7 linked regions of the Homo sapiens genome follow. The protein of the gene in region 1 purifies or fractionates together with the protein of each later gene. This does not show direct contact. Each region holds a gene or a part of one and is shown in the gene's direction. Other genes may lie near its edges. The genes, in order: POLR3E, ACAD11, FMNL1, SLC25A19, CHM, TRMT1L and SLC25A20.

The links.
Region 2: the proteins of POLR3E (region 1) and ACAD11 purify together in Homo sapiens (affinity purification with mass spectrometry; 2 studies listed by BioGRID and IntAct, with this or other methods). This does not show direct contact.
Region 3: the proteins of POLR3E (region 1) and FMNL1 purify together in Homo sapiens (affinity purification with mass spectrometry; one large-scale study listed by BioGRID and IntAct). This does not show direct contact.
Region 4: the proteins of POLR3E (region 1) and SLC25A19 purify together in Homo sapiens (affinity purification with mass spectrometry; one large-scale study listed by BioGRID and IntAct). This does not show direct contact.
Region 5: the proteins of POLR3E (region 1) and CHM purify together in Homo sapiens (co-immunoprecipitation; one large-scale study listed by IntAct). This does not show direct contact.
Region 6: the proteins of POLR3E (region 1) and TRMT1L purify together in Homo sapiens (affinity purification with mass spectrometry; one large-scale study listed by BioGRID and IntAct). This does not show direct contact.
Region 7: the proteins of POLR3E (region 1) and SLC25A20 purify together in Homo sapiens (affinity purification with mass spectrometry; 2 studies listed by BioGRID and IntAct, with this or other methods). This does not show direct contact.

Annotation. Positions count from the first base shown.
Region 1 is NC_000016.10:22,328,409-22,331,908, forward strand, and holds part of POLR3E (DNA-directed RNA polymerase III subunit RPC5), read left to right. Parts: exon of another isoform or gene 1-101; coding exon 102-179; intron 180-3,500. UniProt on the Homo sapiens protein: DNA-dependent RNA polymerase catalyzes the transcription of DNA into RNA using the four ribonucleoside triphosphates as substrates.
Region 2 is NC_000003.12:132,572,810-132,576,309, reverse strand, and holds part of ACAD11 (acyl-CoA dehydrogenase family member 11), read left to right. Parts: intron 1-383; coding exon 384-538; intron 539-3,500. UniProt on the Homo sapiens protein: Acyl-CoA dehydrogenase, that exhibits maximal activity towards saturated C22-CoA.
Region 3 is NC_000017.11:45,228,385-45,231,884, forward strand, and holds part of FMNL1 (formin-like protein 1), read left to right. Parts: intron 1-2,219; coding exon 2,220-2,303; intron 2,304-3,500. UniProt on the Homo sapiens protein: May play a role in the control of cell motility and survival of macrophages. Plays a role in the regulation of cell morphology and cytoskeletal organization. Required in the cortical actin filament dynamics and cell shape.
Region 4 is NC_000017.11:75,279,434-75,282,933, reverse strand, and holds part of SLC25A19 (mitochondrial thiamine pyrophosphate carrier), read left to right. Parts: intron 1-3,500. UniProt on the Homo sapiens protein: Mitochondrial transporter mediating uptake of thiamine diphosphate into mitochondria. It is not clear if the antiporter activity is affected by the membrane potential or by the proton electrochemical gradient.
Region 5 is NC_000023.11:85,862,559-85,866,058, reverse strand, and holds part of CHM (rab proteins geranylgeranyltransferase component A 1), read left to right. Parts: intron 1-1,237; coding exon 1,238-1,429; 3' UTR 1,430-3,500. UniProt on the Homo sapiens protein: Substrate-binding subunit of the Rab geranylgeranyltransferase (GGTase) complex.
Region 6 is NC_000001.11:185,136,454-185,139,953, reverse strand, and holds part of TRMT1L (tRNA (guanine(27)-N(2))-dimethyltransferase), read left to right. Parts: intron 1-374; coding exon 375-587; intron 588-2,157; coding exon 2,158-2,348; intron 2,349-3,500. UniProt on the Homo sapiens protein: Specifically dimethylates a single guanine residue at position 27 of tRNA(Tyr) using S-adenosyl-L-methionine as donor of the methyl groups. Dimethylation at position 27 of tRNA(Tyr) is required for efficient translation of tyrosine codons.
Region 7 is NC_000003.12:48,860,883-48,864,382, reverse strand, and holds part of SLC25A20 (mitochondrial carnitine/acylcarnitine carrier protein), read left to right. Parts: intron 1-1,723; coding exon 1,724-1,841; intron 1,842-3,500. UniProt on the Homo sapiens protein: Mediates the electroneutral exchange of acylcarnitines (O-acyl-(R)-carnitine or L-acylcarnitine) of different acyl chain lengths (ranging from O-acetyl-(R)-carnitine to long-chain O-acyl-(R)-carnitines) with free carnitine ((R)-carnitine or L-carnitine) across the mitochondrial inner membrane, via a ping-pong mechanism.

The DNA of each region.
Region 1 (3,500 bases):
TGTTCCTGCATCTGGGCTGGGGCAGACAGGGAGGGATGAGGCAAGCAAATGGATCCATGGGGTAGAGATGGACAAGCAACTCACCCCTGGGCCTTGGTCAGTTTCCCCCCCAGACTGCTGCTTCCCCGGATGAGCAGAAGGTGTTTGCCCTCTGGGAGTCTGGAGACATGAGTGATCAGGTGAGGTGAACTTTGCTGCCATCTTCCCGAAGAGCCAGGGGGGTTTCCTGCAGCGTTGGAGGCCTTGGGGGACATGTGCACCCAAAGTGCAGCCACACATTTCAGATTTTCTGGCACACTCGGTTTTAAATATCCTGCTCCAACTCTGTACGCTAACAAAATAAGCTGTATGTGCCAATAGTTTGAACCTAAACCAGTGGTTCCCAGATGCCAGTCTGTGAGCCAGCTCCATCAGAATCATCTTTTAAAAAATACAGGCTGGGCGTAGTGGCTCACGCCTGTAATCCCAGCACTTTGGGAGGCCAAGGTGGGTGGATCACCTGAGGTTGGGAGTTTGACACCAGCCTGACCAATATGGTGAAACCCCATCTCTACTAAAAATGCCCATAGTCGTGGGAGGCTGAGACAGAATTGCTTGAACCTGGGAGAGAGAGGTTGCAGTGAACCGAGATTGCACCACTGCACTCCAGACTGGGCGACAGAGCAAGACTGTGTCTCAGAAAGAAAAAAAAAAAAAACATAGATTCAGTTCTGTTCAGTAGGTATGCGGTACTGTCCTAGGTATCTGAATTTCTGTAAAGCTTCCTGAGCAACTCTGATCCAGCCAGGCTTATAGAGCACTGGTGAAGCACATTTCTCAGGCGGCCTCTGGCAGCAGGAATCAAAAGGATTCCTTGTCAGATGTCAGGTCCTGGACTTTTAGGTTAAAGAAATTGGTCATTTTGCCTCTAGTCATACTGTGATGGGGAGGGTCACAGGTGTCCAGTGCCCAGAAATGTGAGTGGAAGCAGCAGCGCCTTGCGTGTGTGTGGTGTAGTCATGGACCCTGCATCCCAGCTTTTCTTAGGCCGTGAACGTACCTAATTTGATGGTCGAAACGCCAGTCGGTCTGACCGTGTCTAGGCCCTGCTCCTAAGGTGTGGGGAGAAGGGAGTCAGCAGAAATCCCACTGAGCTCTCTGTCCCCAGCTGCCTCTTAGGGGAGCCAACTGGCAGGCTGAGGATCTAAGGGGCTGGGGCCTTTTCCTGAGCAAGCTTGAGTGCTTTTGTCCAGAATAGAGGGTATCTGAAATACTTTGATAACAAAAAGGCAAAAAAACAAAAGTCATAAATGCAGATTTTTAAACATCAAATCAGACTAGAAGTTTTAATAGGAAAGCTCTTGCACTGCTGGACCTGACTGCCACCCCTCAGAGGTGACCACTTTTATTACTACTTTTTTAATAGAAACAGGGTCTCACTATGTTGGCCAGGCTAGTCTTGAACTCCTGGCCTCAAGCAGTTCTCCTGCCTCAGCCTCCCAAAGTGCTAGGATCATAGGCATTTACATCACCAAAAGATACCACTAAAATAGCTGCCCCCATTTAAAAAAAAAAATCAGCCTGTCATTAGCAATGGGCTTCCCATTGTGGTGGATGAGATTTAGCTCTCAACTATTTTAGGAGACTGTAGAGATAGATATGTTACGCCAGTTTTTTTTTTTTTTTTGAGATAGATAGCGTCTTGCTCTTGCTCTTGCTCTGTCATCTAGGCCTGGAGTGCAGTGGTGCCATCTCAGCTCACGCCTCTTGCGTTCAAGCGATTCTTGTGCCTCAGCCACCCGGGTAGCTGGGATTACGGGCTTGTGCTGCCTCACCCAGCTAATTTTTGTATTTTTAGTAGAGATCGCGGTGGTAGGGGTCGGGGGGTGGTCCCACCATGTTGGCCAGGCTGGTCTCGAACTCCTGGCCTCAAATGATCTGCCTGCCTTGGCCTTCCAAAGTGCTGGGATTACAAGCGTGAGCCACCACACCAGGCCTTTACCTCTTTTTAATTGGCTATCATTGTTTATAGCATTGTCACAGAATGAACTGAAAATCTATCCATTGTAGAGCCAAACATCAGTAATATACTATGATTGCATTTCCTTGTTCACTGCTTCCTGTTTTCACTTGTGTAATTTTCTGAACACATGTGTACCGAGGGTGATACTTTGCTTAATTAAGCCTGGTTCCCGGGAAGCCTCTCCCTCTGCTTCTCCAGTGAGACTCGCTCTTCCCCATGTCTGTTGCTGAATTCTGGAATCTCTGCTTCTTCCTTGCTTTAGCTTCTGAAGAGACAGAGGAGTTGTCTGCATTCTTTCATGTCTTAAAATGGATTACAATACAGTATTACTGTTTGTCTGGGACTAGAATTTTAAGAGGCAAAGGATACTTCATGTAGCAGTCAGCTGTTTACATGAACCATAGCAAAAAAAAAGGAGAATCAAATCCATCTCCTCTTAATGTTTGCAGAAAGATGCAAACAAAACCAGCTAAGTATGGAACAATGTGTGAGGTTATCAAAGTTTCTATTTTTACGTGATCAAATGATTTGCCTCTCAAAATTCTAGTCCTAGACAAATAGTGATACATGAAGCATCCTTTTTTTTTTTTTTTTTTTTTTTTTTTTTTTTTTGAGACAGAGTCTCCCTCTGTCAGCCAGGCTGGAGTGCAATGGCACGATCTCGGCTCACTGCAACCTCCGCCTCAGCCTCCTGAGTAGCTGGGATTATAGGCGTGTGCCACCACGCGTGGCTGATTTTTGTATTTTTAGTAGAGACGGAGTTTCACCACGTTGGACAGGCTGGTCTCGAACTCCTGACCTCAGGTAATCCGCCTGCCTCGGTCTCCCCAAGTGCTGGGATTGCAGGCGTGAGCCTCTGCGCCCGGCATGAAGCATCTTTAAGAGAGTTTCCATTGTTTAAGTTTTCAGAGTTGTTGAAATTCCATAACATTCTCCTTCTTGGTCTTTTAAATTTGGCCTGTATTCTTTCCTTTATGCCAAACTGCAGAATTTTTCATTATTCTGTATATCAGTCAGTGCCATTTCAGCTGTGCCCTGGTGCGGGTCATTATTGTACTAGACAATTGAGTTCTTATAAAATCCTGTGAGTTGTTACTTTTTTTTGTTTTTTTCAGAATTCTTATGACAGATATTAGACATACTGAATCCAATCTTTTCCATTTTTATTTTGGGGTGTAACGTATTTTACGGCATCCTGTTTCATGGATGCAGTGGCATGTTTGTGCATTAAGACTTCACACCAATTTTGACACCCTCTTCTCATCTCCGTGCAGCTTAGATTGTCGCTTCACCTGCTTGCTAAGTCCGATGCACGCCTGCATTTTACCATGCAGAAATATGTTCAAGCCACTCATCCTCTCATGTCTCTTCACCAGTTCTTTTGTTATGCTGGCATATACCTTTGTTTTTATTTATATTCAAGTTTCCAGACATAGCATTAATGCCTTTACTTTTGTGTTTTTATTTCTGTACACTGTCTTGCTGGGTCTCTAGAGAT
Region 2 (3,500 bases), on another chromosome or scaffold:
CAGAAAATCTCTTCTTCCTTTGCCTTTGTTTCTCTCTGTATCTCTTACCCTTACCCACTCTTCTGGATTCTAAACTCCTAGTACAGGGACTATGTGTTATTCCAACTTTGTATCTATTGCAGCATTAATAAAATAGCTTATGCATAGTACATACTTAAGAGACAGTTCTGAAATTTGAAATGTTTAATGGTGGTGGTTTTAAAAACATAGAAATCAAAATTCCCATGAATTCATAGTGAACCTTATTATAGAACTGACTTTTTTTCACTAGAAAGCCATTTTTATTAAGGGCAGCTCATCTCTTTCCCAGGATTTGTATAAATAACAAAAGGAATGGGCTAGGCCATTTTCACATTCCCCCTTTTTTTCCCCTTTCTTCCCAGGTGAAGGTAGGGGATTTGAAATTTCCCAAGGCCGCCTTGGACCTGGCAGAATCCACCACTGTATGAGAACAGTAGGTTTGGCGGAACGCGCTTTGCAGATCATGTGTGAGCGGGCAACACAAAGGATAGCTTTCAAGAAGAAGTTGTATGCACATGTGAGGACGATTACTTATTTGAATTTATTGTAGCCCGGTGCACTACACTAACATTGAACAAAAACATTACTTGTGAGAGACAGACTTTCTCTACATGAACCGGGTGATTCTTTTCAATAAGGCATATTTATGTCTGTATTTAAATATAGTCTAATGAGAGGTATTTATCTTTATGAAAAATTAAATAGTTCCTAAAATGCTTCAACACCTCTGCACACAAGAGTGTAGACAGTTCCTTCAACTTTCTCAGATTCTTGTTCTTTAGAGAACCTGGAACATTAGAGCTCCCTGTGGACATGAAGGAGCTGTCATAAGGAAGAAGGATTTGCCTTGTCCATTGGTTTCCTAGAAGGAATTAGGACACATAAGTGTAAAGTTACAGGAAAACAGCCCAAAACTCAGGGAAAGGAGAAACATGCTAATAAACCTAAAAGTGGAATCAGCTTCTTCAGGAGGACTTGAATTCTGTCACTGGAGAAACACAAGTAGAAATGGGACCAACATTTTGTGAGATATTCATGACTTTTTGAATTATCATCTGTAAATTATATACTACTGAGTCTGTTGTTACAAATCACTGTAAACATAGTTACATGTGGCCCATATAATAAAAATTAGGAAATATGGCCAGGCGCAGTGGCTCACACCTGTAATCCCAGCACTTTGGGAGACCGAGGCGGGTGGGTTGCCTGAGCTCAGGAGTTCAAGACCAGCCTGGGCAACATGGTGAAACCCCGTCTCTACTAAAATACAAAAAAAAACAAAAAAAATTAACCAGGCATGGCGATGTGCACCTGTAGTCCCAGCTACTGGGGAGGCTGAGGCAGGAGTATTGCTTGAACCCGGGAGACAGAGGTTGCGTTCAGCCAAGATCGTGCCACTGCACTCCAGCCTGGCGACAGAGCGAGACTCTGTCTCCAGAAAAAGAAAAAAAATTAGGAAATATGTATTGAGATGAAATAGAAGGTATTATTTCAGACTTCCTTAAAAAGTCTTCTACAGAGAAGTAGGATATCCACATCATCTCCCTTCTAAGTTTTAAGAAGGCAAGAAAAACTATTATTAAATGTTCACTCTTTATTATTGCTAACATGTTAGTGTTAGGTCAAATCTGTGGTGATGGAATTGTATTTGTGTTTGCTGCACATGTATATTTTAGTATGTCGGTCTCCTTATACATTTTTGACCATCTTATGAAATTTGCAGTATGTATTTTTTACCTTAAATTATTATAATCTATGTTTGCTTTTTGTAAAGTATTATTCAGCATTATATGATTTATTTGTATAGTTTTTTAACTGAAAAGCTACAGCCCGCTTTATGACACTACACCTGGGAATAATTTGTCAGGAGCCCTTTTAGTATACAGCGAAGGCAAGTTTTTAGTATACAGCAAAGTTCAGCTGTTGGCTGGGCACTGTGGGAGGAGGTGAGAAAGTGTGACCCTCTGGGGCCCTGGATACAGCCTCTGATGCTGTTGAAGAAGGATGAAGAGGTGCTCAGGGCACCAACCATTACTTCTTACCCTTTTGTCAAGCTTGCATGCAAACTCTGGAGCAGGGTGAAGGGAGGACACAGTAAAGTCGACAAACAAGCATCGCGAATGCACAAAAGCCCTCTGTGCAAGTGCTGCTTTCCTGAGTGGTGTTTTAATACTGCATTAGTAAAAAATTTCCCTTCCACCTTTTAAAGTTAATGTGTCATGCAGAGCAAGCCTGGCTTTTTAACAAATATGCCTGTTTTCACTGGAAACTTTTCACATCTGGCACAAATAACGTGATCTGGCAGAAACAAAAAGATGTGTGAGCATGTCATAAGCAAAAATCTGGGCCAGCTTTTTTATTTTAATTTGTGAAAGGAACATTTCATTTCTTTGAATTTGGAGGCTCCTTCCAGCTGCCTTCTAATTTACTCCAGGCTGTAACGCAAAAAATTCTCCATCCCAGTTCTGTCTTAGGAAATATATTTGGCAGTTCCCTAGAGCACCTAGTTTCTACCCATTTAATGCTTTTCAGCAAATCTAGGGTCTATAGAGACCCAACTGAGAATACCTCCTTTATTCTAAAGCTGAGAAGTAAATGTCTTCTAAGTCTGTTCATGAAGTTATAAAGTTGTAATTATCCTGTTTTACAGCCATCAAAAAATATTTATTCACCACCAGCAACTTGTTTGAAATTAATTCAGAGCCATGTTTCAACCTCTAGGGCAGTGCCATCCAAAAGAAATATACTATGAACCTTAAATGTTATTTTAAATGTTCTAATAGCAACATTTTTAAAAAGTGAAAAGAAAAAGATGGAATTAATTTTAATAATATATTTTATTTAACCCAATATATCAAAAATACTATTTCAACATGAAATCAATATAAAAATTATTAATGAGATACTTTATATTTTAATATTTATTCTTCAATATGGGGTGCATATTTTATACTTATAGTACATCTCAGTTCAGACTAGGTATGTTTCAAATGCTCATTAGCCACATATGGTTAGTAGCTATCATGTTGAACATCACCGCTTTAGGGAAACTCTAATCAAATATCCCCTGTTGAAGGGCAAACATGACCAAGCATAAAAATGGCCAAGGTGTGCATGTTCTCACTCATAAGTGGGGAGATGAACAATAAGAACACATGGACATGGGGAGGGGAACAACACACACCGGGGCCAGTTGGAGGGTGGGGGCAAGGAGAGGGAGAGCATTAGGACAAATAGCTAATGCATGCAGGGCTTACAACCTAGATGACGTGTAGATAAGTGTAGCAAACCACCATGGCACCTGTATACCTATGTAACAAACCTACACATTTTGCACTTGTATCCCGGAACTTAAAATAATAAAGAAGAAAAGAAAGGAAAATAAAAGGACAATTAAACGTCAAAAAAATGGCTAAGATGTAAGGAAGGTGCGCAGTTTCAATCCCCTGCAGATGGCTAGCAAGTTATCCCAGCACCAT
Region 3 (3,500 bases), on another chromosome or scaffold:
GAGGCCTCCCCTCGGCAGTAACAACCAGGGGGCTGTCCTGGGGGAGTGGACCCAGGTGGTGGCTCAGAGTCAGCTCCAGGCTCAAAGCCAGCCCAGCTCTCCTCTTACTGGCTTCGTAACCTTGGGCAGGTCACTAAACTAATCTGTGCCTGCACCTGTGAGGTGGGAATGTTAACGGTGCCAGTGACGGCAGTGAGGGTGGAAGGCAGTCGTCGGCGCGCAGGGCTCGGAGCAGTGCCTTGCACAGTAGGCATTCTGGTGGAGCTGGCCACCTGACTGTTGGAGATGTCATTATGACTAGTTACTGCCCCTAGAAATGCCGCTGGGGCCATTCCAGAACCATAAAGTTCCCTGGGTGGGTGAGGGCCTGGGAGGATTCATGTCGGGAAGCAGCTGTCCCCTCTGTGGCTCTGTGCTGGGCTCAGCCATCCCCTTACTCCCTGGCCACCGTCTTTTGTGCCGGCCACGGCTCCAGTTTCCCTGGCACTGCTGGCCCTGTCTCTCCTCTTTGTCCCTTTTCTCCACCTTGCTCCCACCTTAGCCCTGCCCCACCCTTTGTCTCTGTGGGGTGGGGGTGACTGAGAGACATCATCGAGAGAGACAGACAGATGGACAGGGACAGAGAGACAGAGAATGACCTCGCCTCCTTTGTACTCCTGGGCGGTTCCCCCACCCCCTGCCCCTGTGGTAGCAGGAGCTGTCCTGGCCCTTGGAGGGCTGGGGGAGGGCGGCTGATGAGACAGCGGTGGTTTCCTCAATCCAGGCTCACTTTCGCAATAGGGGAGAGGAATGACGTATTCCACCCCCTTCAGCCGCTGGGGGCGGGGGGCCTGGCGGAGGGGCAGTTTCACCTCTCCAGCAGGGCCTGGCCGGAAAGCTTAGGCAATGGAGGCTGAGCGCACCCAGCTTCCTGTTGTCTGGGCCTGACCCAAGGCAGTGATTTTGGGGGTAAGGTCTGGCTGGAGCCCCAGAACTAGGCCCAGCACCCTGGAGGGGAAGCTGGCTGGGGAGTCTCAGGTGGGTGTGGCCCTCTGACTGCTCCAGCTGTGGCGTCTCTGCAGAGCCACATGACTGAGGGTGTGGAGCGTGAACCACCATGGCTGGTGAGCCCCTCAGGGTCTCCCACATCCCCGATGGAGACTCTTACTCAACTCAGATCTCCTTGAGGGCAGGAACTGTCTTTTTGGGCCAGACATATAGAAGGCTCTCAATAACCTGGGGTTTACTAAATTGAAGGGAACTGGCCTCATCTTTTGGGTCTGTCAGGGAGACAAGCCAAGTCTGGGGGTCCAGAAAGCCCCTGGTGCTATTGACACCTGGTTGATTCGGCAGCCCTGGGCTGGCGCTAACCTGCTCCGTGGTGGCAGGGGCACCGTACCCTTGTCATCTGTGGCCAGGGGAGGAGGACCCAGGCAGAGCTCTGTTGACCTTTCTCAGCTCCTGGGGGAGTCCCAGCTGGGCGGCCCCCACCACAGACCCAGGGCACTGGCTCTTCTCCCCAGTGCTGTGGCCGAGTGACCTTCCCCGCAAATCTCCCCGCCCCTGCAGCTGTGATCTGGAACTCCCTGCCTGCTGACATGGCCGCCCTCAGCTCCCCCAGCCCTCTCCTTCCTTTCTCAGCCTTCTCCTCCAAGTGGGAGGGGGCTGGAGAGGGATGAGGAGAAGGCTGCTGTCCACTCTCCTTGCAAGAGATTTCCTGGTGTTCGTGAGGCACTGGTGCCCTGGGCCTGGTCTGTGTACACGTGGGATCTGGTGGCACGTGGAGGTGGGACACTGGCCACTGGCCACTGGCCACACTTTGGCCTGACTGGTGATGGCTCCCCTGTTAGCTTCCCACCAGAATGGGGGAAGAGATGATGCCCCAACAGGAAAACTGGGGCCCAGAAGTGTCTCAGGTCCCCAGAGAGGTAGGCTGACAACCCACGCTCCTGCCTGCACACCAGGCAGGCCAGGGAGGCGGTGTGGGGGGTGACACAGCGCAGGCAGACTCGGATTCAAATCCTGCTCTCCCTTCTAGCTGGTGTGCCCCGGGAAAGGTGCTCTGTCTCTCTTGGCCTTGGTCTTCTCATTGGATAACACTACGTATCTCCTAGGGTCAGAGGATTCATGGGGGTGATGCACCTCCTAGGGAGCCAAGTGGGTTTCCCCCAAATGCCCATTCTCCCCTCTCCCCTTGTTGGGGCCCCAGGCTCAGGGGTCTTTGTCCTCCCTGTCCCCAGAACTGCATGAACTTGCCCCCAGACAAGGTCCAGCTGCTGAGCCAGTATGACAACGAGAAGAAGTGGGAGCTCATCTGTGATCAGGTAGGTGCCAGCACTGCCCAGCCACCCCTTCCCTCCCACTGTCAGTACCCCACCCTGACCAGGCTGGGGCTATGGGGAGAGGGGCACCGCCATACTGCCCATGGAGCCAAGACTCTGCTCAGTGGCCAATGTAGCACCTGGGGAGGGTGCTGGGGTCTGCAGGACTCCCAAATCCCTTTCTCTTGAACTCCCCAAAAGACCTTGTGAGTCACTAGCAGGGCTGGGTCAGCTTCAGAGGAGCTGGCAGAGCTGGTTCAGGCTGGGGCAGCTGGGGCCTCGCACTGTCACTGTCCTCCTGCTGAGCTTCCTGAGAAACCTCTCTGGACTGGGGAAGGGAGAGGGCGACCCTGGGGTTGGACATCTTCACCTGACCCCATGGGAGGGAGGGAGGAAGGGGCGGGAATTCCTGCCCTTTTGCCTTGGGTCCAGAGGAGCTGCAGTTGACCAGCAACTCCCCAAGGCCAGCCACTTTGGACCCCTGCTTTGGTGCTCCGTCCAGGTGCCTGGACTCACGGGTCACTCAGCTGTCCCCACCCCTCCAGCTTCAAGGGCTGCGGTCGGCCATGGGCCGACCCTCTCCCAGCGCTGGGCTGGGTGGGGCTCGGCTGCCGCAGGGATTCTGTGAAGGAGGGAGGCTGCAGAGGCTGGGGGTGGGGAGTTGGGAGCTGAGAGCCTCCCCTGGGAGCCAAGGCTGGGCCTTTGCCTCCTGCTAATGAAGCAGATGGCCTGAGCCGGCTGGGCAGCAGTCCAGGGGTAAGGGCTGGGAAGTGGGAAGAGGGTGGAGAGCTGCCCCTGGAGTCTCTGGTAGGGGTCCCCTTGGAGCAGCTCAGCCTGACATCTCAGAGGTTGGGGGCTCAAAGGGCTGGAAGAAGTGAAAGTCTGAGGGGTGGCTCGGCGAATCTGAGGGGTTTGGGTTGGAAGGGTGGGGGCCCCTCTGGGGAGGGGTCTTTGCCGTGGTCCCTGCCTCTTTGTGTGAGTGGCCGCTGGAGCCTGCAGTGGGGTGGGGGGATTAGGAATTGCATCACTGAGCACAGGAGAGGAGCACGCAGGTTCCTGCCAACGCAGATGTGCAGGGCGGCTGGGTCCGAGTCCTACCCAGGTGCTGGGTCCCCTTCACGAGGCACCTCCAGCCGTCCTTCCCCGCCGTATGCCAGCTCTGGTCCAGGGAGGGCACCACCTGCTGGCTAGACTGAGTTC
Region 4 (3,500 bases), on another chromosome or scaffold:
TTCTTTTATTTGATAAGCATGTTTTTTTTAAATATATGATTTTTATTTTTATTTTTATTTTTAGTTATTTATTTATTTTTTTTGAGACAGAGTCTCACTCTGTCGCCCGGGCTGGAGTGCAGTGGCACAGTCTCGGCTACTGCAAGCTCCGCCTCCTGGGTTCACGCCATTCTCCCTCCTCAGCCTCCCGAGTAGCTGGGACTACAGGTGCCCGCCACCACGCCCAGCTAATTTTTTGTATTTTTAGTAGAGACAGGGTTTCACCAGTCACAGGATGGTCTCGATCTCCTGACCTCGTGATCCGCCTGCCTCGGCCTCCCAAAGTACTGGGATTACAGGCGTGAGCCACCGTGCCCGACCTATTTTTATTTTTATTTTTTTCAAGAGACGGAGTCTCGCTCTTATTGCCCAGGCTGGAATGCAATGGCCAGATCTCGGCTCACTGCAACCTCTGCCTCCTGATTTCAAGCAGTTCTCCTGCCTCCGCCTCCCAGTAGCTGGGATTACAGGCGCCTGCCATCATGCCCAGCTATTTTTTGTACTTTTAGTAGAGACAGAGTTTCGCCATGTTAGCAGGCTGGTCTTGAACTCCTGATCTCAGGTGATCCACCCGCCTCGGCCTCCCAAAGTGCTAGGATTACAGGCGTGAGCCACCGCACCTGGCCTATATATATATTTTTTGAGACAGTGTCTTGTTTTGTTGCCTAGGCTGCAGTGCAGTGGCATGATCACTGCTCACTGAAGCCTCGACCTCCTGGGATCAAGTGATCCTTCTGCCTCAGCCTCCCCGGTAGCTGAGACTACACCTGGCTGAGTTTTGTATTTTTTTAGAGACGGGGTTTCGTCATGTTGCCCAGTCTGGTCTTGAACTCTTGAGCTCAAGCCGTCTGCCCGCCTCGGCCTCCCAAAATGCTGGGATTACAGGCATGAGCCACCGCACTCGGCAGAGGTTGAGTTCTTGTCCTTGCAGAAAGCAAAGCTGGGAGAGGTTCGGGTTTTCAGTTTGTCTGGCAGTCAGTTTGTAAAACCCATGACTGTGGGCAGCACTGTGCGGGGTGCTCTATGTCCCTGCCTCAAAGGAGCTCACAGCCTCCCTGGAAGACAGAACCTACTGCTATGAAACAGAACAAATAATTACCCAGCAGTGGGCTGGATCAAGGACTGCCCACTTGAGAATTTATTGCTGGATTATTATGAGAGCGTCTTTGTTTTTTTGTTTGTTTGGTTGGTTGGTTTTTTGAGACAGTCTCACTTTGTTGCTCAGGCTAGAGTGCAGTGGCGCAATCTCAGCTCACTGTAACCTCTGCCTCCTGGGTTCAAGCGATTCTCCTGTCTCAGCCTCCTGAGTAGCTGGGATTACAGGCACGTGATGCCATGTCCGGCTAATTTTTATATTTTTCGTAGAGACAGGGTTTCACCATGTCGGCCAGGCTGGTCTCAAACTCTTGACTTCAGGTGATCCCCTGGCCTCTGTCTCCCAAAGTGCTGGGATTCCAGGCATGAGCCACCACGCCCGGCCAATTGCGAGTGTCTTTGGTTTCCACAAAGAATGGGCTGGTGGAAATGGGATAGACTCGAGGAAGAATTTACTGAGTGAAAACAAGGGATTAAATCCTGAAATAGACCTCCCCACCATGATCTCTGTTTCCTGGACATATTTAAGAATAGCATCATATGTATGTGTGTCTGTGTGTTCTCAACCAAGAAAGAATAATTTTATTGTTATTATTTATATATATTTTTTGAGACAGGGTCTTGATCTGTCACCCAGGCTGGAGTACAATGGCTGCAATAGCTTGCTGCAGCTTCGAACTCCTGGGCTCAAGCAATCTTCCTGCCTCAACCTCTCAAGTAGCTAAGACCACAGGTGTGTGCCATCACACCTGACTAATTTTTTATTTTTTTATTTTTTGTAGGGGCAGGGTCTCATTATGTTGCTCAGGCTCAGGCTGGTCTTGAACTCCTGGTTTTTTTTTTTTTTTTTGGTTGTTGTTTGTTTGTTTTTGAGACGGAGTATGGCTCTGTCGCCCAGTCTGGAGGCACAATCTCAGCTCACTGTGACCGCCTCCCAGATTCAAGTGATTCTCATGCCTCAGCCTCCCAAGCAGCTGGGACTACAGGTCCGCTACCATGCCCAGCTAATTTTTTTTTCAGATGAAGTCTCACTCTGTCGCTGAGGCTGCAAGCTCCACCCCCAGTTTTAAGTGATTCTCCCGCCTCAGCCTCCCAAGTAGTTGGGATTACAGGCGCCCACCACCGCGCCTGGCTAATTTTTGTATTTTTAGTAGAGACGGGGTTTTGCCATGTTGGCCAGGCTGGTCTTGAACTCCTGACCTTGTGATCCACCCATCTCTGCCTCCCAAAGTGCTAAGATTACAGGCGTGAGCCACCGCGCCTGGCCATGCCTGGCTAATTTTTATATTTTTAGTAGAGATGGGATTTTGACATGTTGGCCAGGCTGGTCTGGAACTGCTGGCCTCAAGTGATCCGCCCACCTGAGCCTCCCAAAGTGCTGGGATTACAGGCATGAGTCACCATGCCTGGGCTTTTTTTCTTTATTTTTAAGGCAGAGTCTCACTCTGTCATCCAGGCTGAAGTATAGGGGTATGATTACAGCTCACTGCAGCCTCCACCTCCTGGGGTCAAGCAATCCTCCCACCTCAGCCTCCCAAGTAGCTGGGACCATAGGCACTTGGTACCACACCTGGCTAATTTTTGTATTTTTTGTAGAGATGGAGTTTCATTCACCATGTTGCCCAGGCTGTTCTCGAACTCCTAGGCTCAAGTGATCCTCCTGCCTTGGCTTCCCAAAGTGCTGTGATTACAAGGCTGAGCCACCAGACCTGGCTTATAAACAATAATTTTTCCACTGTCTCAACTCTGCTTTAGGATACTGTTAGTGGGAAAGGAAGGATAATTTGTTTAAGAGTTTGATGTGGGCAACATGGCTCTCTACAAAATACAAAAAAATTAGCCAGGCATGGTGGTGTGCACCTGTAGTCCCAGCTACTTGGAAGATTGAGTTGAGAGGATTGCTTGAGCCTGGAGAGTGAGCCATGATTGCACCATTGCACTCCAGCCCAAACAACAAAGTGAGATATCCTGTCTCAAAAAAAACAAAGAATTGGGCTGGGCGCGATGGCTCTCGCCTGTAATCCCAGCACTTTGGGAGGCCAAGGCGGGCGGATCACAAGGTCAGGAGATCGAGATCATCCTGGCCAACATGATGAAACCCCGTCTCTACTAAAAATACAAAAATTAGTTGGGCGTGGTGTCAGGTGCCTATAATCACAGCTACTCGGGGGTCTGAGGCAGGACAATCGCTTGAACCTGGGAGGTGGGGGCTGCAGTGAGCCAAGATTGTGCCTAGGCAACTCCAGCCTAGGCAACATAGCAAGACTTCGTCTCAAAAAAAAAAAAAAAAAAAGATAATAGCATATTACCTCTAGCTTCAACTATTGACATGTTGGATTTTAGATTCTAGAATGATCAGAGAATAT
Region 5 (3,500 bases), on another chromosome or scaffold:
CCTCCCCAGAAAATGGTTTTTTCTTTTCTCCCACATGGTCAGACTGCAAATTTTCCAAACCTTTATGCTCTGCTTCCCTTTTAAACATAAGTTCCAATGTGAAGGCATCTCTTTGTGAACACACATGACTGAGTGCTTTCAGAATCAGCTGGGTCACCTCTTGAATGCTTTGCTGCTTAGAAATTTTTTCTGCCACATACCCTAAATCATCTTTCTCAAGTTCAAAGTTTCACAGATCTCTAGGGCAGGGAGAAAATGCTACTAGTCTCTTTGCTAAAGCATAGCAAGAGTCACCTTTGCTCCAGTTCCCAATAAGTTCCTCATCTCCATCTGAGGCCACCTCAGCCTGGACATCATTGTTCATATCACTATCAGCATTTTGGCCAAAACCATTCAACAAGTCTCTAGAAAGTTCCAAATTTTCCCACATTTACCTCTCTTCTTCTGAGCCCTCCAAACTGTTCTAACCTCTGCCTGTTACCCAATTCCATAGTCACTTCCACATTTTCAGGTTATCTTTTAGCAGTACCCCACTCCTGGTACCAATTCTCAATGCTAGTGCCTCTTACACTGCCATAAAGATACTACCTGAGACTAGGTAATTTGTAAACAAAAAAGGTTTAACTCACAAGGCCACATGGCTGGGGAGGCCTCAGGAAAGTTACAATCATAGCAGAGGGTGAAGGGGAAGCAAGGCACATCTCACATGGTGGCAGGAGAAAGAGAAAAGGGGGAACTGCTAAATACTTTTAAACCATCAGATATTCTGAGAACTCACTATCACAAGAACAACATGGGAACAGCCGCCCCCATAATCTAGTCACCCCCTAACACGTGGGGATAACAATTTGAGATGAGATTTGGGTGAGGACTCAGAACCAAACCATATCAAGGCTCTATAAGAAATCATATAAACAATATTAAGGAAATTGTATTTCTATTGATATATAGAATGAATGTATTTCAGTTCTCAACAATCTGAACACTTGATAATGAACCTGATGAGGTACTGCCATCCTTGAAGAGTGGACCTCAATACATGTATAGAATTAAAGGGAGAAGTCATAGAATTCTGAAAACAGACTTACGGAAGTTCATGTATTCTGATTAAGTACTGTAGCCTGTTTAAGCAAATTTTTAAGGATAAAACACTTATTTTTTTTTAGTTAATGCCAGAAATGCACACACATTTTAAACCGATTTCCAAAAACGATTTTATCTTTTCTTCCTTGGCCAGGCTGAAACACTTTTCCAGGAAATCTGCCCCAATGAAGATTTCTGTCCCCCTCCACCAAATCCTGAAGACATTATCCTTGATGGAGACAGTTTACAGCCAGAGGCTTCAGAATCCAGTGCCATACCAGAGGCTAACTCGGAGACTTTCAAGGAAAGCACAAACCTTGGAAACCTAGAGGAGTCCTCTGAATAATGGATATACACCAAACTGGATACCCAACTTTGGAAATTCTGACTGGTCTCAGAGTCTACTTGATAGAAGGACTGTTTGAGAAATGTTAGAAAGCAGCAGCAATTATAAGGCAAAATAGGTAATAGAAATCCAAAAGGGGATTTTCCTTATAGAGGACATTCCAAGAACACACAACACTTATAAAGCACATTGACTTGCTCATTTTAAATACCAAACTTGTGTGACTAGCAGATGAAAATTATAAATCAATTGATTCTCAGGAATGTAACTGTGGATATGAAAGTGATCCTATGCATTGTTAATAATTCCATGGTCTTAGGACAATTTTGCTTACCACTTTGGATCTTTGTTTGAAAGCCACATTTTCAGAACCAGCTCATGTATTTTCTTTGGTTATTTGAATTTTATTTTCTTTATGGACAAGAGCATCATAACATAATGATAAAAACATATAGAAAAACTAAAGTATCATGATCTAGATAGAAGCCTGTATTTGGAATACAGGTTTGTTTTGCTTTCTATGTTGAGAAGCATTGAAAATGCTAATATAAAGGTGTTTAGACATTTTTACGAATAAGTCAGTAGTGTTTTTTAGTATCAGTAGTGATATTTGTTTGTAAATTATTTACATATTGGGAAAGGTCAATAATGAAGAAATGAAAGAATGGAAGGAAAGGTGTGGATAGGCTCATTGGTATTTGAATATTCTGTCTGTCAAGTAACTAGAGTATTAGGCTAATTGTCTACAGACCTAATTTAATCCTGGCTGTCCTACTGATGATATTTGGTAAATTGTTTAACTTCTGAGCCTACGTTTCTCCATATATAAAGTGGAAATAGTATTACTATGCCTACTATATGAGAATGGTTATGAAGACAATGCAATGCCATGTTTAGAATCGGTTTGCCAGAAGAAAATTGTTTTAGAATTTTCCCATTGACTTGATGAATCTCAAAAGTCTCACGCAGGAAATAATTGCTTGCTGTCAGTCAACTTCCAAACAAAATAGATCACAGTGTTTTTATTGCATTAAGCTTTTTAAATGAAAATTTCTTTTTTAAAGTAGTATTTTATAGTCTTACAGACCAGTAAAAATAGTAACAAGTAGAATTGTGGTTTTGAAATATTACTAAGGAAAACACTCTATAAATTGTTTTATTCCTTTTCTGGTAGGTAAACCTGCAACCACCAAGGACTCCAAATTGTGTATGACAGTTGGTAAGCCCTAATATACACTACATAAAAACGTTAGGGCTGCCTGTAATCCCAGCACTTTGGGAAGCTGAGGTGGGTAGATCACTTGAGGTCAGGAGTTCGAGACCAGCCTGGCCAACATGGCGAAACCCTGTCTCTACTAAAAATACAAAATTTTAGCTGGGTGTTATGGTGGGCACCTGTAATCCCAGCTACTTTGAAGATGAGGTAGCAGACTCACTTGAACCAGGGAGGCGGAGGTTGCAGTGAGCCAAGATTTTGCCACTGCACTCCAGCCTGGGTGACAGAGCAAGACTCTGTCTCACAAAAAAAAAAAAAGGGGGCTGTACATAGGCAGCAAACTAAGCTGCAGTGATGTTGCCTATATTTAAATTTTCTCAAATGGCCAAGCTCTGATGGTCTACTTTATTTGAGCAATAGTTGAGACTTATAATTGCCTATAAATAAACAAACAAATGAACTATTTGTTTTTTTTTCTCACAACATCTGGCCTATATTGTCTGTCAGGAAGCCATGGCTCCAATGTAAAGTACATAGTTCTTACATACTTCAACTGCAGCTGGTCCCTGACCTCACCAGGTTTCAGAGATGTTCTTAAAGGAAGCCAGCTGTGGCAGGTCACAGATTCATGGGAAATGGAAAGAACCAAGGAATATAGCTCTTGCCTCACCTTTCTACCCACTGCAGATATAGTTCAAGCCAGAGTAATGGAAGAACTTAACTTACTAGCCTCTCAGGCTGCTCCTATCCCTACCTCCCAGTGTACAGCCCCTCCCCATCTCTTTAGTCCCCTTTCCCTCACTTCCCCTTTTATAATGTCACACAAATCAGGGACAGTAGGATCACATTATAACC
Region 6 (3,500 bases), on another chromosome or scaffold:
CGTGTCACTTTCTAAACTTATCTGAAATTTTGGGGACGAGGAGTAGTTAAAAATTAAGACAGTTTTTTGTTGTTTATTTATTTAAATTAATGCCATTTTTTGACATTGGCCTAAGGTATGCAGTATGAAAATTTTCTAGTATTTGAAATAAAATGCCTGGGCATGTGACTTTTCCTCTAACCCGAATTTATTTTTACATGTCTGATACATCATACTATCATTTTATTACTTAATTTCAAAACAGAATTATGTACTTAAAATATATTTGCAATGTATTTTTAAATCCATGGAATTTTATAATTAGAAATAATTACAGTGGTATAATTTTTGTTACTAATATGACTTTAAAATGTCTATATTCTTTCTGATTTTAGACATCTAGACCCTTTTGGAACATCAGTGAATTATCTAGATTCTGCATTCAGAAATATAAGAAACCTTGGCATAGTGTCAGTGACTTCTACAGATATCAGTTCTTTATATGCCAAGGCACAGCATGTTGCCCGGCGTCACTACGGATGTAACATTGTCCGAACTGAATATTACAAGGAACTAGCAGCCAGAATTGTTGTAGCTGCAGTGGCAAGGTACCAAATTGCCAACAGTGTACTTAGTGTGTTTCAGTATTTGATAAAAAGAGATAATATTACAAGAAGTACTTACCTTATTCAAAATATGCACAAAATATAAATTCTGTATTCCTTATCTGTAATACTGGTTTTTAATCTTACGTGGTATCTGTTGTAATTTTATTTAAAAGTTTATACCTGAAATATTCAGTTTACTCTCCAATTAAAATGTTACTGAAATAAAGTATAAGAAAGAAAAGGTAAAAGTGAAAGTTAATTTCCAGTTTATTTCAACAATGTAGGATAAAGGATAGCTATATGAAAGGAAAAGCAAAAACTGTTTTGTTTTGTTTTTTCACCATGTTGCCCAGGATGAAACAAGACTCCTGGCCAACATGGTGAAACCCCGTCTCTACTAAAAATACAAAAATTAGCTGGGCATGTTGGTACACACCTGTAATCACAGCTACGATTATAGGTTGAGGCACTAGAATCACTTGAACCCAGGAGCCACATGCTGCAGTGAGCCAAGGTTGCTCCACTGCACTCCAGCCTGGGCAACATAGTGAGACTCTGCCTCAGAAAGAAACAGTCATTTCTTTTATATCCATTCTGTTTTATCTTCTTTATTTATATAGTTTGAATAAAATGATGGCTTACAAACTTGATTCTGCAAAATGGTCTTACAAAATGGGAAGTTCTCTCCATTTCTCACCAGGATTTCCAAACAGAATTTGAAAACAGTTATTTTTTAAAAGGATGACTTTTTTTGAGCACTTACTATATGCAGATTATGCTAGAATAATATAATATAAACGGATATTGTGAATATAGATAATGGATAATCAGCCAGCTCACTTGCCAGCCCCAATACTAGTTTCAGAGCATTTAAGTAGAAATTTCTACCTCAGGATAAATACAGATTATTAGACTTCATAGACCTTCAGGGTTGTTTCTAATTACCTGAAAACTGATGTTTACTGTATGCATGCTAAGGACTTAACTGCACATACTTAAAAATGTCTATAATGTAATATCAGCAAATTCAGAGTAATATATATAAATTAAATGTAGTATATGACTGCAGAGTACATAAATGGTATATAGTAGAGCTTAATCCAAAAAGTCTGTGAAATTAATGGTGGAAAGGACTTTGACTGTTCTTTTTTCACTCAATTTTCAGTAGCTAGCATACTATCCTGCATATAGTCATTACTCAATAAATAGATACTGTTTGAAAGAAGCTTTTATAGGAAATAAAATAGATAAAAAGGAAGCAATGTGGTGGTGATGATAAGAAACAAAGTGAAAATGACTGAAAACCAGAAAATATTGCCCTATTGAGAGGATATCGCAAGGGAAAATGTCTAGAAACTGAAGACCCTCCCAAGCATCTTTTATTTCCTGTGTTTCAATTTCTGTAAAAGTTACAGTAATGATCTTTTAAAAGCACTGCTACTGAGAATTGAATTTTTCTTGATGTCCCATAACTTATCCATAGTATACTGTCCAGGTTAATATTGTCAGTATAATGCCAAACAAGGGAAAATGATAAGCCCACAAAATAACTTGAAAAAATTTATTGTAGAGCTGCAGCCCGATGCAACAAAGGCATAGAAGTACTGTTTGCAGTGGCTCTGGAACATTTTGTGTTGGTAGTTGTGAGAGTTTTGAGGGGACCTACTTCAGCAGATGAAACAGCCAAGAAGATTCAATACCTGATCCATTGTCAGTGGTGTGAAGAGAGAATTTTTCAGAAGGATGGTAATATGGTAGAAGGTAAATTCAAGTTATATATTATGTTTATCTATAATCCTCCACTGAATAAGCCTTTATCACATACCTAATTATACATATTGTTGTCCTTTGATTTTAAAGATTACAGTGCTAACTTTGTTATTTCCTATACTGGATTTCCTTTCGTCAACAGACAAGACATTCGTGTGAGTTTATTAAAGTTATTTACTCATGCTGTACAATATATGCTTTCTAGCTCTGCCTTCTATCGAAACATCTAGAAATAACTTAGTTTCCACTCTCAACTAATTTTAGGAACATAAGTCAGATTACGTTTTTTCCAGGCTGTTACAAATCATTAATTTTATAAAAATAATTTTCATGTTTCTGGCTGTGTATAAAAGCCATCAGTTATAAAATGCATTCAATAAACATTTATTGAGCCTCTACTATATGCCAGGCCTGGGGATGGGAAACAAGGAAAAAGCTGTAGTTTATGCCTTCATAAAGCTCTTTCTGTTTGTTTCAGTTCTGGGACATGGAAACAGTTGCTTATTGTTTTCTGTTAGGTTCTTGGTATTTTATGAATTTTTGAGTTTAGCACTTACTATGTTAAGTTGCAGATTTTTTTCTCATTTTGTCACTTTTTTTTTAATCTGTGTTGCAGAAGTTTTTTGTTGCTAATTGAATGTTTATGTAGTCTGGATTTTGCCTGTAGTTAGAAAGAGCTTTCCTATTCCTGGATTATTCAAAGTAGATTAGGTTGTATTGAATAGTACACCTTTCCTCCACTGATTTGAGAATACCTTCTTTATCTTATACTAAATTTCCACATGTATTTGAGTTTGCTTCTAGATTTTCTGTTCTGTTCCAGTGGTTGGATATTTCTTCATACACGTCTATCATACTGTTTTGACTATAGAGGCTTTTCAGTGTCATTTAATATCTGTGATGGCAATCCCTACTCAAAGCTCTTTGTTTTCAGTGTTCCTGTATTGCTCTTTTGTTAATCCCTTAATATAAAAGTAAATAATAACCCAGTTGGCATATTATTTTGATGACATTAAATTGGGGAGAATAGATACTGTGATTTTTGAAGCTTCCTACAAATATGATATGCTTTTCATTTGTGCAAGTACTTTAGTATAATGTTAACTGGTGGTGGTAATGGAGGAAATTCTGTCATGTTCCTTA
Region 7 (3,500 bases), on another chromosome or scaffold:
TGTTGCTTTTTTTTTTTTTTTTTTTTTTTTTTTTTGAGACAGAGTCTTACTCTGTCACCCAGGCTGGAGTGCAGTGGTGCAATCTCGGCTCACTACAACTTCCGCCTCCCAGGTTCAAGTCATTTTCCTGCCTCAGCCTCCTGAGTAGCTGGGATTACAGGCATCTGCCACCACGCCCAGCTAAGTTTTGTATTTTTAGTAGAGATGGGGGCTCTCACCATGTTGGCCAGGCTGGTCTCGAACTCCTGGCCTCAGGTGATCTGCCTGCCTTGGCCTCCCAAAGTGCTGGGATTACAGGCGTGAGCCACCGTGCCCGGCTTTTATTGCTATTTTGAATGGGATCCATTTCTTGTATTGATTGATTGATTGAGATAGAGTTGTGCTCTGTCTCCCAGGCTGGTGTGCAGTGGCACGATCTCGGCTCACTGCAAACTCCACCTCCTGGGTTCAAGCGATTCTCCTGCCTCAGCCTCCTGAGTAGCTGAGATTACAGGCATGTACCACCACGCCTGGCTAATTTTTGTATTTTTAGTAGAGACAGGGTTTCACCATGTTGGTCAGGCTGGTCTCAAACTCCTGACCTCATGATCTGCCCGCCTCAGCCTCCCAAAGTGCTGGGATTACAGGTGTGAGCCACCGTGCCCGGCCTTTTCTATTATTTTTTAACTGGTTAATCCTGATATGTAAGAAAGCTATTTGGTTTATGTATTTGTAAGTGTTTCTCTTTGGAACTGTTAAAGCTGAACTCCCTTTCCAGCTTTAATTATTGTTTGGTTGATGCTCTTGTGTGTTCTGACTCCTCTTGGTCCTGAACAAGCGGGATCCCTGTGTGGATCCTGCATGGAGCTGTCTTTCAGATCTTTCCTGGGATTACCCCTGCCTACCCCCAGGTTCTTGGCTCTCAGGGGCGGGGTAGGAGCCTCTCTTTGGCCCTCCTCTGGCTCTGCATAGGAGCCCTCTCTGAACAGGACCCCTGTCTGGGAACTTAGAGCTTTGAGTGAAATTTTCTGTTCACCTTTTCTTAACCAACTCTCATGACCAGGTAGGCTTGGAATGCAGTTGGTCTTCAGGGGATATTTGTTGAAGGAATAAATGAATGACTAAAGTATTTGTCGCTTCCTTTTTAGACCTTCCAAATAGCTTTATTGTGTTTGACAGATTTCCTCAACTTATTTTTTATTTTTAAATTTTGAGACAGTCTCACTCTGCTGCCCAGGCTGGAGTGCAGTGTGGTACGATATGTTTTCTAACTGCAACCTCTGCCTCCCAAGTTCAGGCGATTCTCCTGCCTCAGCCTCCTGAGCAGCTGACTACAGGCGCCCACCACCATGCCCAGCTAATTTTTGTATTTTTCGTAGAGACAGGGTTTCACCGTGTTGACCAGGCTGGTTTCAAACTCCTGACCTCAGGCGACCTGCCTGCCTCGGCCTCCCAAAGTGCTGGGATTATAGGCATGAGCCACTGCACCCGGCCTCCTCAACTTGTTTTTCAAATTTTCTGTTGGTTTTATTTCTAGTCAATGTGAATGTTTTCTGATATTTTCACCTAGCCTTATTTCATAGTACCTGCCCCAAGATCACACATTCCAGATACTTATCAATTTGACAGTGAAGTCTTTTATTGCTGTAACACATAATGGCCATACTTACTTTGTAGTCTCCTGTAACCTGCTGGGTCTGTGACTCTGATGTTTCTGACTTAATGATCCTCTCCTCCCTCCCAGATTCAGGCTTCTTCAGGAGAAAGCAAGTACACTGGTACCTTGGACTGTGCAAAGAAGCTGTACCAGGAGTTTGGGATCCGAGGCATCTACAAAGGGACTGTGCTTACCCTTATGCGAGGTAACCTTTCAGGCCTCCACTTGAGGTCACCTGGGGAGGTCACCTGAGGTGGGTCTGCTGCAGAAGGTCTTGCCTGGATTGCCAGATTAGCCTTGGCACCATGCATGTCACATCTCTGACAATACTGGCAGTAAGCATCTCCCCCTGGCCAGCATGGACGTAGATTAGGATGAGGGGACCTTCCATCTTTCCCAGGTGTCTGCAGGGGTAGAAGTCATGGCATCACAGTTGGAGGGGAGTGGCAAGTAGATAGAAATCATCTCTGGAGGGAGGAGTGGGAAGAAAGTGTGACTTGGGGACAGTGGTGATCTCCCTGGTTTTGAGAAGTATGTCCTGTTATAGTGGCAGTAGGAAAGGCAGAGACAGTCTCACTCTTGTCCTGAGCTGGCAGCTTAGAGGAAGGCCAGATACAACAACTGTGCTTATAACTGTGGGCATGTCACTTGCCCACATGGACTTTCACACTGAGAGAAAACCTTATTTATTTTTTTACTTATTTTTATTTTATTTTTTGAGATGGAGTTTCACTCCTGTTGCCCAGGCTGGAGTGCAATGGCACAGTCTTGGCTTACTGCAACCTCTGCCTCCCAGGTTCAAGCAATTCTCCTCCCTCAGCCTCCCAAGTAGCTGGGATTACAAGCACATGCCACCATGTCTGGCTATTTTTTTGTATTTTTAGTAGAGATGGGGTTTCACCATGTTGGCCGGGCTGGTCTCAAACTCCTGACCTCAGGTGATGCACCTGCCTCGGCCTCCCAAGGTGCCGGGATTACTGGTGTGAGCCACCGCACCCGGCCTTATTATTATTATTTTTTGAGACAGAGTCTTGCTCTGTCACCCAGGCTGGAATGCAGTGGTGCATTCTCAGCTCACTGCAACCTCCACTTCCTGGGTTCAAGTGACTCTCCTGCCTCAGCCTCCTGAGTAGCTGGGGTTACAGGTGTGTGCCACCATGCCTGGCTAATTTTTGTACTTTTAGCAGAGATAGGGTTTCACTATGTTGGCCAGGCTGGTCTCGAACTCCTGACCTCAGATGATCCACCTGCCTTGGTCTCCCAAAGTGCTAGGATTATAGGCGTGAGCCACTAAGCCCAGCTGAGGGAACTTTAATGAAATTATATCATGTGTGTTTGTACTCACTTACACCAGTGCTTGGCCCAGAGCAGCATCCCATAGCTGCAAAGTGATTGTTGCAAATAGGATGTGGCTGCTAAGGAACTTCTCAAGAATCCCTGAAGGGTCTAGTGCCAAGCTTGGCTTTTCTACATTCAAGAAATCTGTGGGGGCCGGGTATGGTGGCTCACACTTGTAATCTCAGCACTTTGGGAGGCTGAGTTGAGAGGATCACTTGAGCCCAGGAGTTTGAGACCAGCCTGGGTAAAATAGTGATACCCTGTCTCTATTAAAATAATAATAGCTGGGCGTGGTGGCTCACCCCTGTAATCCCAGCACTTTGGGAGGCCGAGGCGGGCGGATCACGAGGTCAGGAGTTCAAGACCAGCCTGACCAATATGGTGAAACCCCATCTCTACTAAAAATACAAAAATTAGCCGGGCGTGGTGGCGCATGCATCCCAGCTACTCAGGAGGCTGAGGCAGGAGAATTGCTTGAACCCAGGAGGCAGAGGTTGCAGTGAGCCGAGATTGCACCATTGCACTC